Regions from separate parts of the Homo sapiens genome. Here all the other regions are reported to be linked to region 3. Evidence: microRNA targets listed by miRTarBase, many of them from high-throughput screens and not tested one by one. Region 3 holds a microRNA gene; each other region holds the end of a gene's coding sequence.
The links. The annotated mature microRNA hsa-miR-770-5p reads UCCAGUACCACGUGUCAGGGCCA and lies in region 3 at 1,393-1,415, opposite strand. An mRNA with a match to its seed (bases 2 to 7 or 8) in the 3' UTR can be bound and repressed. Matches are read on the target gene's strand: a 7mer-m8 pairs with bases 2 to 8, a 7mer-A1 pairs with bases 2 to 7 and ends in A, and an 8mer does both.

Region 1 (3,000 bases), not on the chromosome of region 3:
AGTCACGTTCTTGGCTTGCTCTCTACATCTATTCCTAAAAAGAATGTAGGCCTACATTAAGACAAAATTTTATATTATTTCACCTTTATTTTATATTCTATTTTACTCAATTGCAAGCTTATTAAGAACATAAAAAGTTTGATCATAACTTACTCTTACCTCATCCATATTACACTAGAATTAAATCATATAGAAAAACATTGTTTCCATTAGTTTTATAAGATGTATCCACAGTGTGGTTTATTTTTAGTTATGTAATTTTAAAAAACCACTTTGGTGTAGATTTCTCAAAAATGATAACCCTGAAATTAATGAAAATTGTCATTAAAAGATTTCTAGTTTTGCTTTTATAAAAATCATTATTTCGAATTTCACAGTGAAGAGGTACTAAATTCCTCATAGAACATGAAATTATATAAAAATAGAAGACATAGACATCTTTAAATCTTTAATCCTTTGATTAAGCAGCAAGCATATCACTCTTCCAGGCCAAACACTGCTTAAACAAAAAAGAAAAATAATGACGTGCAAAATATTTACAAAATATGCAAAGCACACAATAAAGACATCTCACTATATACATGTGTCATATTACTAATGAAGCTAAAGTTTTTCTACTGTGTGCTCTAATGCATGTAAATCAAATTACAGCACATCCCTCAGATACAGCACCTTGGCCCATGTCTGGGATAGAAGAGATTTTTTAATGAATCACAATATACTGAACAGCTGGACAGATGCTGGTGCTGACCAACTTGACTGACATATCCCACATACTGTGTACTGAAGGTCTACTGACAAGAGACAAGACAATAAACGCTGTAAAGGTATAGTATGCACATACGTAAGACAATCTAAGTGCTTTAAAAAATGTTTTAGATATTTTAAGATATTTAACTGTCCCCTGTGGCTTTTAAGGAAAAAATAAGTATAAATTCTTGAATATTAAGAATTTTAAATCAGCTAAATTCAGGGCCAAGAACTATTTAAGATGATTCAATGAGAAAGAAAAGGACCTAACCTGGAAAAAGAGTTTCAAATATGCCAGTACGTAGGGTATTTATGGAAATACACAGTCTAAAATTAAAAATTAAAACTAATCAATGAATTTAAATCTATAGCACTTTAAGGCTGTGGAGCCAACAATAGGGAATACTTTGGGAACACATGATCTTTCAAAACATAAATTAGGGCCTTAGATGTTGACTATTTTGTGAAGTATTCTACACGTGATAAGAATGTGAATGTGCAAACATGTAGCCTATGTCCACTAGTATAGCAATCTAAGTGATCTGTCTGTCCCTTTGCACAAATAATGATTCCAATATGAAATCACTGTATCAAAAATATTAATTACACATTGTTGAAATACTATCACTTGTAAAATATTCTTTGTTAAGTACTTAATGATTATGGGTTGAATTAAGAAGACTTGATGTCTTTTTGTTTTTCTATAAAAAGGGGTCTCAGCATTTTTAGTTAACAGCACAACTGTGACAATATACTGATACATCTTTAGATAACACAGAACAAATTCTTATTTTATGAAATAATGTTGATGATTTAACCCTACACCAATCCCACGAATACAGGTTGGCTGCAAGGAATACACAAATGTATCCAAATAGTACAATAGATTTATCAATAAAACACCTTTCATATTAAATGCAGACCATATTATTAAGTATGAGGGCAATTTTAAGTTCAGAAACCAAACATGTAAAGGGTACTGTAAAGAAATGCTTCCATAACCACTGTGTCTACTTAACTAACAAAATATAATTCTTCTCTGAAGTCCCCAGATGTAGGCAACTACTAGTTAAAAGCAGATAGCATTTAGAAACAAAAAAAACCAACTCCATTTTCAAGGAACTTAAAGAGATTATATTTCAACAAATTAAGTCCTCATTTGTATGCAAAATTATTCTTCCAATCCTCTCATTACTGACAGATGATGAGTCAATGACCTTTAAACAAGGACTCTGCGCTAGGACCCTAAACTGTATGTTAAAGGGTTAGTAGGTTCAGTACATTCTTTGTGGTTTTATATAATTGCTTTGCAATTGATTAAATTGCTTTCTTTTAAAGGAATATATTAAAATTCCTTTAAAAAAAAAAGCAACATTTTTTGAAAGAAGGGATATGCAGCTATAATTTCTTAAATATGCATAAAATGAACATATGTCAAAATCGGAAATGCTGGCTATTCTTGCACTCCTAACATAGGAAAATGGTTTTTAAAAAATTAAAGAAAAAAGCCAAACATCCTTAACTTAAGAAACTTAAGGAGTTTTCACAATTCCTAAGTCAATATTCCTGTACTAAGAGCCTTGACTATGAAGAGGCAGGAATATAAAGAACCTCAATAAAATAAATACAGTAAAAACAAAACAAAAACTTGGTATATAGAATACTTAAATCTTTTGTTTTTCCTTTTATGAGATCAACATTGCTGAACATATACTCTAGAAAGGAGGCTAACTGGAGGCTTTTTGTTGTAAAACATTTTAGTCTAGTGAACTGAAAAATTTCTTAGACATCCACTTATGCTAGTCCACTGCCACAGAACTAGTTCGCAGCCTCAGTATCTAGAAATGATTATTCTTTCCTCTTTTTCATCAGTCAGATGAGCACTGGTATAATGATGGGGTGAAAAGTTACTGCAGCTGTGTCCAATTTAATTTTTAGTGCAGTGAGGACTGTGAATCTGTCTGAATTCCAATAAGTGATGGTGGCTGTTGACCACCAACCGTGGACAACACCGGTCTTGGGTTTAGACGGGGTGGCATGGAATTAGCAGGGCGAATAAGAGGTGGTGGAGGCTGATTTAAAGTTGGCCGGGGCTGGATGAACCGAGCCTGCTGCTGGAGTGGAGGAGGCTGCCGGTGAAGAGCCGGGGCAGCAGGCAGTGTTGGACGAAGAAGTGGTGGAGGCTGGTTCAGAGTGGCAATAGGGGCTGTTGGTGTTGGAGTGGATGATGGGGCAGGAGGTGATGGACCC
Region 2 (3,000 bases), not on the chromosome of region 3:
GGGTTGCATCTGAAACACAGTAACAGCAACCTGAGGCTGCAGGGGACAACTTAGGTAAGGCAAGCGGATTGCATTAGCTACGTTTTCCATGTTCCCCATGGATTGGCTAATTTGAGTAATTTGGGCTGGAATACAGCAGTCTGGAGTGTGAAAGCCCACTAGCCTTGTCCTCAACACTGAGTCTCACACACACACACCTAAAATGTGTGGTACTGACATAAAGACAGACATATGACCAATAAAATAGAGAATCCACATATAAACCATGGCATATATGGACAAATGATTTTGACAAGTGTGCCAAGACTACTCAACAGAGGAAAGATGCTCTTTTCAAAAAATGGTGCTTGGAAAACTGGATAGCCACATAAAGTGGACTTTTGCCTTAAACCATATGCAAAAATGAACCCCAAGTAGATTAAAGATCTAAATGTAGCCAGGCACAGTGCATTACAACTCCTGCCTGTAATCTCAGCAATTTGGGAGGCCGAGGCAGGGGGATCACTTAAGGCCAGAAGTTTAAGACCAGCCTGGCCAACATGGCAAAACCCCATCTCTACTAAAAATACAAAAATTAGCCAGGTGTGGTGGTGTACACTTGTAATCCAAGCTACTTGGGAGGCTGAGGTGGGGTGATGGCTCGAACCCAGGAGGCGGAGGTTGTAGTGAGCTGAGATTCCACTACTGCACTCCAGGCTGGGTGACAGAGCAAGACTCTGCCTCCAAAAGAAAAAAAAAAAAAAGACCTAAATGTAAGACCTTCAAATATAAAATTCTTAGAATAAAGCATAGGGAAAATGCTTGGCATTGGATTTGATACTAATTTTTTTTAATATATAACATCAAAAGCCCAGGTAACAGAAGTAAAAATAGATAAAATGCACTACAGTCATCCCTTGGTGTCTGTGGGGGACTGATTCCAGGACCCCTTGTGGATACCAAAATCATCTGATGCTCAAGAGGTCCCTCACATAAAAAGGCATAGTGTTTGAATATAACCTACACACATCTTCCTATATAGATTATCATTAGGTTATTTATAACTTCTAATACAATGTAAATGCTATGTAAATATTTATTATACTATATAGTTTAGGGAATAATGACAAGAAAAAATGTCTGTTCATGTTTAGTACAGATGCAACTACCCTTTTTGTTTTCCAAATATTTTTGATTAATGATCACTGCAATCCATGGATGCTCCAAATACTTTTGATCCATGGTTGCTTCGATCCATGAATACAGAACCCACAGACAGAAAGAGTCAACAGTACATCAAAACTTAAAATTTCATCAAAGGACACAATCAACAGAGCGAAAAAGCAACCTATGGACTGGGAGGTAATATGTAAAAAGCATATATTTGGTAAGGAGTTAATATCCAGAATGTATAAAGAACTACAACTCAACAACAAAAAGCAAATAGTCCCATTAAAAATGGAAAAAAAAGACTTGAATATTTTTCCAGATACACAAATGCCTAACAAGCACATGAAAAGATCCTCAACATCATCAATCATTCACAAAATAAAAATGAAAGACACTATAGATTCCACCTCACATCCAACAAGATAGCTGCTATCCAAAACAAAAGGCACTACAAAAAACCCCAAAAACAGAAATAGAAAATGAACAATGTTGGTGAGGATGTATATAGATTGCAATCCTTGTGCACTGCTGGTGGGAATGTAAAATGGCACAGGTACTATGGAAAAATTTTCCCAAAAATATTAAAAATAGAAATCCTGGCCAGGCGCGGTGGCTCACGCCCGTAATCCCAGCACTTTGAGAGGCCAAGGCAGGCAGATCACAAGGTCAGGAGATCAGGACCATCCTGGCTAACACGGTGAAACCCCGTCTCTACTAAAAATACAAAAAAATTAGCCAGGCGTGGTGGCAGGCACCTGTAGTCCCAGCTACTCGGGAGGGTGAGGCAGGAGAATGGCATGAACCTGGGAGGCGGAGCTTGCAGTGAGCCAAGATCACAGCACTGCACTCCAGCCTGGGTGACAGAGCAAGACTCTGTCTCAAAAACAAACAAAAAAAAAAAATAGAAATCCTATATGATCCAGCACCACCATTTCTGAGTATATACCCTATAAGAATTGAAAGTAGAATCTTGAATAGACACTTGTACACTCATCTTCATAGCAGCATTATTTCAATAGGCAAAAGGTGGAAGTAGCCCAAGTATCCACTAACAGATGAATGGATAAATAAATGTGGTATATAAATACCATAGAATATTATTTCACCTAAAAAGGAAGGATATTCTGACACATTATACAACATGGGTGAACCGTGAAGACCTTATCCTAAGTGAAATAAGCCAGTCTCAAAAGATAAATACTGTAGAATCCACTTATATGAGGTACAAATATATATCAAATTCATAGATATCTATTGGTACCTCATATAAGTACCATAGAGTATAGAAATATAGTTGAGACATTTCTGGGGAAGTAGGGAAGGGGAATGAGTTGTTGTTAATGGGTACAGCATTTTACTTCTTGGTAAGAGGAAAAATGTTCTGGAGATTAGTTGCATAAAAATGTGGAATTTATATAACATTACTACCCAATTACAATAGTCAATGGTAAACTTTCTCCATTGTGAAATCTCTGATGTTTAATGAGGTTGGAGTTTTAGCTAAAGAATTCCCCACATTCATGGAGCACACAAGCCTCTCTTCACTGTGGATTTTCTGGTGATGAACCAGGTGAGACTTTCTAATAAAGGCCTTCTGGCATTCGCTGCACTCATAAGGTCTTTCTCCACTGTGGATTTTCTGGTGCTCAACAAGTATATGCTTGTGGCTAAAGGCTTTCCCACACTCTCTGCACTCGTAAGGCCTTTCTCCAGTGTGATTTCTCCAATGTTTAATGAGGTTGGAGTTGTAACGAAAGAATTTCCCGCATTCGCTGCACTCATAAGGCCTTTCTCCCGTGTGGACTCTCTGGTGTCTAATGAGCCTGCAGTGGTACCTAAATGATTTCCCAC
Region 3 (3,149 bases):
CTGGGTGGAAGAACATAATTCTTAAGAATGAAAAAAAGGGTGTTTTAAGCAGTTAGTTGTGGCATTATTCATAATATTTTTAAAAGGTGGTTATACATAAGAATAACAGAATGGTTCTGTGAATGATGCCATAGCCACTCAACAAGGCACAACGCAGCAAGTGAGGTTATGAAGATTCATGGAACAAGGGAAAATGTTGATGACAGAAAATTAAATAGAAGAGGCAGGATACAAAAAAAAAAAAGTGTATGTGGTGAATAATGGCAATTAGGTTTTTTTAAAGAAGGGATGCTCATTAAAGAATAGACACTCTTTTTTTAAAAAAAGTATGCCTGTAAGAATGTAAAATGGGTGACATGTCAGAATGTTGAGTGGTGCATGCATTTCCCACTGCTCTAGGTCAAGTGCCATCCACACCATTTATATTAGGAACACAACGGGACACAGCAGGATTCGTGGCCTGTCTATCCCAGAGGTCCTGAGGCCAAGCTTCCCAAGGAGGGAGTTGGGAGTCACAAGAGGAGGCCAAGGAGAGTTGTAGCTCCTGGTGTCACCAGGAAAGGATTTGTGTGTGGGGAGCATGCAAATGACAATGTCAAGAGACAGAATTAATTCTCATTGTTAAAAGTTTAACGAACACATAAAGATAGGCCCTGACCAGACAGGAGCACTAGGATCCCAACTCGGACCTTGTGGGTCTGGTACAGAAAGAACCGGGTAGGGAGCACGTGAAGGATGTTTTATCTCTGGCTTTTGTGCCATTAGGAACCCTATCCCGAATCTCAGCATCCCAGAACTAAAGAACCTTTGAATTACAGATACAAAACTCTTAAGGGTCAAAACCCTAAGAGCCCTGATCCCCCCTCATGGCCTCCACATTTCCAAAAGGACACACAGAATTCATCCAACCCAAACCCACCCAGCCTCCAGGGCACCAGTGGGTCTCCCCAGAGCTGCTCTCATTGGCTCAGTTCGACCCACTGTGACCCGTCAGGACAGCCCCTAGATGTTGGGAGCAGGCTCTCCTAGCAGCCAACGTCGCTTGTTCCTTCCAATTTCCTCTTGGTGCATGCAATGGGCCCTCCCTTCCCCGCCTTCTGCACACTTTAAGTCTTCCTGAGCCTCTGCTGACTTTTTTTAACAGCCGTACATGAGTTCTTTTGAAAGACCCTCCCGGTCTTCTTCTGCCCTGAACCCCTCCCGCCCCATCCTCATCCAACAGTGACACAGCTTGTCAGGGAGAAGCTTCAGCAGGTGTCCCCAGGGATAATAAGTGCACCCCCAGACCTCAGTCCAGCCAAGGCATAGCCTGGAGCCCCAGATTCTGAAAGAGAAGAAGAGCAGACCCCTGAGGCCCCAGCACCACATCAGGCCCACGAGGCCCAGCTCATGTGGCCCTGACACGTGGTACTGGAGGCTCGGAAGGTGGCTCCTGACACATGAATTCCATGTCCTCCGCCTTCCAAATGCTGTTGCCATCCACTCGGCCGGAGCTAGAAGCGTGGGAACCACCCCCTTCTTCTTGCCTCCCTCCCTCCTTCATATCCTGTCTATAACCCCATAGCTTTGATTCCTGAGCACCCCACTTTGCTGCCATCAGCTCAGACCTCAAGCATCACACTAGCTAACAGCCCCATCCATGCCTGCGCCCGCACTCCCCATCCCACCCAGCGTCTACAGAGTCACTCTGAGCATGACGCCTCCCACTCCAGATGGCCTGGCCCCACCCCACTCCCCTGCCTCCCACGTGCTCCCTGCCACAAGTCCTGAGTCCATCCAAGCTGTGCTCCTACTGCTCCGGGCGCTTGTTAAGAATCCAGTGTTTTTATATGTCCCAAATAGGAATTGAGAGGTCAACAAGGGAGACTTTGGTCCTTGCTTTTACAGACAAACACAGGCACACAACACAAAACTACACACATTTCCTCCACTACAGAGAAAGGAGACTCAACAGAACCGGGGAGGCCCTGGGGGAGGACTGTCAGCACGAGCAACTCTCCAGATTTACCCCGGCAGTCCCCCGGAGGGCGAGTCAGAGAAGAGACAACCTCGACACAGCGAAACGCAATCCCGCCAAGTTACAAAACACGTCGTGAAACAGCCGAGAAGACAGAGAGGCCTTGAACCAGGCTCTGGGGATGGCATGTCAAGGAAGCCAGGGTCCCCGGACCACTTCTGCAACCCCAGGGGTGCTGAGGTGCACCTGCTGCCCAGGGAAACCTGAGTTGAGAAGGGTGGGCGCCCTGCCCCATGGAAGACCAGGCCAGAGGGTGGCCTGGGCACACTGCAGAGAGTTGCAAGAACAAGGTTTCTGGTGGCTTGCCCAGGGCTCCTGGGTCCCGGGGCTTCTGGGTCCCCCTTCTCAGGTGCGCCTGGCCACCTTCTGGCCTTTCCCTGCACCAACCCCTGGATGTGAGTAGGTGCCACACCCAGGGTGGCACACAGCAGGCGGGGCCCATGCTCCACCCAGGGCCTATTGCTCCCTGACCCTCTGCTGCCCCCTGGTGGGCAAAACCTCCTGTGCAGGTGACCCATGCCGCGGGAGTGGCCAAGCTACCCAACAGGCTTCACACCACTCGTTCATGCAACCTTCTGCGGGGCTCAGGGTCCAAGCCCTTCCTGCCTATCCAGGCCATAGATGGGGTACCATCAACAGAGACACATAAGATCAACTCTAGTAGGCAGCTGGTGCCACTCCAGGTTTACAGATGGGGAAACTGAGGAAGAGACAGATGCAGTGAAATGGCCCACACAGCCAAGATAGGGCAACAGCACCCCAAGACCAGGGTCTTCCTGAGCCAGCTCCTCCCTGCCAGGGCAAGTGCATGTGACAAGCACATGACATGCCTACAGCCACCCTCCCTGGGGACCACTTCATTCCACTGTCTAGAACACAGGACTGGAAAGAAGGTTCCTTCCTCTCTTCCCTTTTTCCCTCCTTCCTTTCTTCCTACCTTCCTACCACCCTTTCTTCCAGTCATTCGTTCATCCATTTAGATCTGAGTCCTTTGTTTATGGACTTCAGTAACATAGCTTGAAATTAATCATAGCCTTTGGCCTAAAGGCCTCCATTCACAAGTCCTATTTATTGACCGTTACATTATTTTATTCTTTATTCATTTCTTTTTCATTTCTTCCCAAATTGCATC
Region 4 (3,000 bases), not on the chromosome of region 3:
GTTGGCCTAGAGGAGCAGGTCCCAGCTACACCAGGCGGCTCTGGTGTCTCTGCTGCATGGAGGACGCTCGCCCTTGCCGAGCACCCTGACCTGGCCTTCAAGGTGGGTGAGTTGCCTGCTTGCCTGGGCTGATGCTGCCTCCCGCAGGTGCAAGCGGTTCAGGGTGCCAGTGGAGAAGATCTACAGCAAAACACAGCGGGAGAGGTTCGCCTGGGCTCTCGCCATGGCAGGAGAAGACTTTGAATTCTAACGACGAGCCGTGTTGAAACTTCTTTTGTATGTGTGTGTGTTTTTTTCACTATTAAAGCAGTACTGGGGAATTTTGTACAATAAAATGTGTGCAAGTGCTTGTACATCACTAGAAAAAGTCCCCAGGCCGGCCGGGCACGGTGGCTCACACCTGTAATCCCAGCACTTTGGGAGGCTGAGGCGGGCGGATCACAAGGTCAGGAGATCGAGACCATCCTGGCTAACACGGTGAAACCCCATCTCTACTAAAAATACAAAAAACTTAGCCGGGCGTGGTGGCGGGCGCCTGTAGTCCCAGCTACTCGGGAGGCTGAGGCAGGAGAATGGCGTGAACCCGGGAGGCGGAGCTTGCAGTGAGCCGAGATCGTGCCCCTGCACTCCAGCCTGGGCGACAGAGTGAGACTGTCTCAAAAAAAAAAAAAAAAGAAAAAGAAAAAGTCCCTAGGCCAGGCACAGTGGCTCATACCTGTGATCTTGGCATGTTAGAGGCCTGAGGCTGGAGGATTGCTTGAGCAGACATTGAGGCTGCAATGAGCTGTGATTGCGCCCCTGCACTCCAGCCTGGGCAACAGAGCAAGACCCCATCTCAAAGAGAAAGAAAAGTCCCTGACGCCTGCCGTGTCCTTTGAAGCCTCCACCCCGAGCATGGAGTCTGCTGGGCTGTCACATCCAATCAGCGTCCCAGCCTGGACCCCCGGTTCCCGCTCGACAGGGGAGGAGAAACACCTTCGTGTGCTCTGAGGCTGAGGACTTTGGGTGAGGATTCCACATTTGCGCACGCGCCACCCTCTCAGCGGGGCCCGGACTCTTCACCAAGTTCTTTAGCGCCTGGAATTCAGCAAGGGCACAGTTGCTGCCTGGTCACTAAGCCCAGCGGCCCCCGTTCAGTTCTCATCACCTCCACACTCTCCATACGTAGCTCTTAGCTCTTACGATGGCCTTCTGCCTGAGCTTCCCAACCCTGTATCCTCTCAGAGCTGCCTGTCGGCTGCCCTCTGCCACGCGGGATCCTCTGCCGCCCTCTCTGCCACGCGGGACCCTCTGCCGCCCTCTTCTCTGCCACGCGGGACCCTCTGCCGCCCTCTTCTCTGCCACGCAGGACCCTCTGCTGCCCTCTTCTCTGCCACGCGGGACCCTCTGCCACCCTCTCTGCCACGCAGGACCCTCTGCCGCCCTCTTCTCTGCCACACGGGACCCTCTGCTGCCCTCCTCTGCCACGCGGGACCCTCTGCTGCCCTCTTCTCTGCTATGCGGGACCCTCTGCCGCCCTCTTCTCTGCCACGTGGGACCCTCTGCTGCCCTCTTCTCTGCCACGTGGGACCCTCTGCCGCCCTCTCTGCCACACGGGACCCTCTGCCGCCCTCTCCTCTGCCACGTGGGATCCTCTGCTGCCCTCTTCTCTGCCACGTGGGATCCTCTGCCATGCGGGACCCTCTGCCGCCCTCTCCTCTGCCGCCCTCTCCTCTGCCGCCCTCTTCTCTGCCACGCGGGACCCTCTGCCGCCCTCTCCTCTGCCACGCGGGAACCTCTGCCGCCCTCTCCTCTGCCACGCGGGACCCTCTGCCGCCCTCTCCTCTGCCACGCGGGACCCTCTGCCGCCCTCTCCTCTGCCACGCGGGACCCTCTGCCGCCCTCTCTGCCACGCAGGACCCTCTGCCGCCCTCTTCTCTGCCACGCGGGACCCTCTGCTGCCCTCTCCTCTGCCGCCCTCTTCTCTGCCGCGCGGGACCCTCTGCCGCCCTCTCCTCTGCCACGCGGGACCCTCTGCCGCCCTCTCCTCTGCCACGCGGGACCCTCTGCCACCCTCTCTGCCACGCAGGACCCTCTGCCGCCCTCTTCTCTGCCACACGGGACCCTCTGCTGCCCTCTCCTCTGCCACGCGGGACCCTCTGCTGCCCTCTCTGCCACGCGGGACCCTCTGCCGCCCTCTCCTCTGCCACGCGGGACCCTCTGCCGCCCTCTGCTATGCGGGACCCTCTGCTGCCCTCTCTTCTGCCACGCGGGACCCTCTGCCGCCCTCTCTGCCACGCAGGACCCTCTGCTGCCCTCTTCTCTGCCACCCTCTTCTCTGCCACGTGGGACCCTCTGCTGCCCTTTCCTCTGCTACGCAGGGCCCTCTGCCGCCCTCTCTGCCACACGGGACCCTCTGCCGCCCTCTCCTCTGCCACGTGGGATCCTCTGCTGCCCTCTTCTCTGCCACGTGGGATCCTCTGCCACGCGGGACCCTCTGCCGCCCTCTTCTCTGCCACGTGGGACCCTCTGCTGCCCTCTGCCACACGGGACCCTCTGCCGCCCTCTCCTCTGCTACGTGGGATCCTCTGCTGCCCTCTCCTCTGCCACGTGGGATCCTCTGCCATCTGCTCCGCGCTTTGCTTTCGGGGCTGCCTCTGTGGCTGTCTCCCTCACACCGGGGCTCCCGCCAACCCCATGAGGCAGCCCCTGTGTAAGGCTCCTGGTCAGCCAAGAGGACCCCAGCGCCCTGGAGGCTGCACCCCCATCCCTCCTGCTGTGGGGCCCTTGGTGCTCCAGGCCCGAGTCTCTCACACCGCGGCTCACCCGCTGCCCCAAGGGGCTCCGGCAGCAGGTCCAGCTCCTCCCGGGGCCTGTGACAGAACAGTTCCAGCAGGGGGCTCTCACGTCCCCACCTGCTCCCAGAGAGGTGCTTCTGTGCCCAGACATGGAACAGCTCCACAGAAAATGAGGGCACTGGCCGAGCAGGCCCAGACTCCAGAAGGGAAACCACTGAGGGTG

Region 1: miRTarBase lists RCOR3 as a target of hsa-miR-770-5p. Seed matches in the 3' UTR shown: 7mer-m8 at 1,045-1,051.
Region 2: the mRNA of ZNF548 is a reported target of hsa-miR-770-5p. The part of its 3' UTR that is shown has no 7-base or 8-base seed match.
Region 4: miRTarBase lists TOP1MT as a target of hsa-miR-770-5p. Seed matches in the 3' UTR shown: 7mer-m8 at 310-316.

The regions. Positions count from the first base shown.
Region 1 is chr1:211,313,453-211,316,452 of GRCh38, reverse strand. It overlaps RCOR3 (REST corepressor 3), which reads right to left. Exons shown (of 12, transcript NM_001136223.3): 12 at 68-3,000. The coding sequence ends at 2,685. Among named protein-coding and RNA genes, the nearest start is that of TRAF5, 12 kb to the left of the region's middle.
Region 2 is chr19:57,399,480-57,402,479 of GRCh38, reverse strand. ZNF548 (zinc finger protein 548) reads right to left here. Exons shown (of 4, transcript NM_001172773.2): 4 at 1-3,000. The coding sequence ends at 2,591. Among named protein-coding and RNA genes, the nearest start is that of ZNF17, 10 kb to the left of the region's middle.
Region 3 is chr14:100,850,675-100,853,823 of GRCh38, reverse strand. It overlaps MIR770 (microRNA 770), which reads right to left and starts at 1,434; the gene lies at 1,337-1,434. All of the region lies in intron 9 of MEG3 (maternally expressed 3), which reads right to left.
Region 4 is chr8:143,306,691-143,309,690 of GRCh38, reverse strand. TOP1MT (DNA topoisomerase I mitochondrial) reads left to right here. Exons shown (of 14, transcript NM_052963.3): 14 at 148-367. The coding sequence ends at 250. Among named protein-coding and RNA genes, the nearest start is that of ZNF696, 17 kb to the right of the region's middle. RefSeq lists enhancers at 1,384-1,884, 1,885-2,385.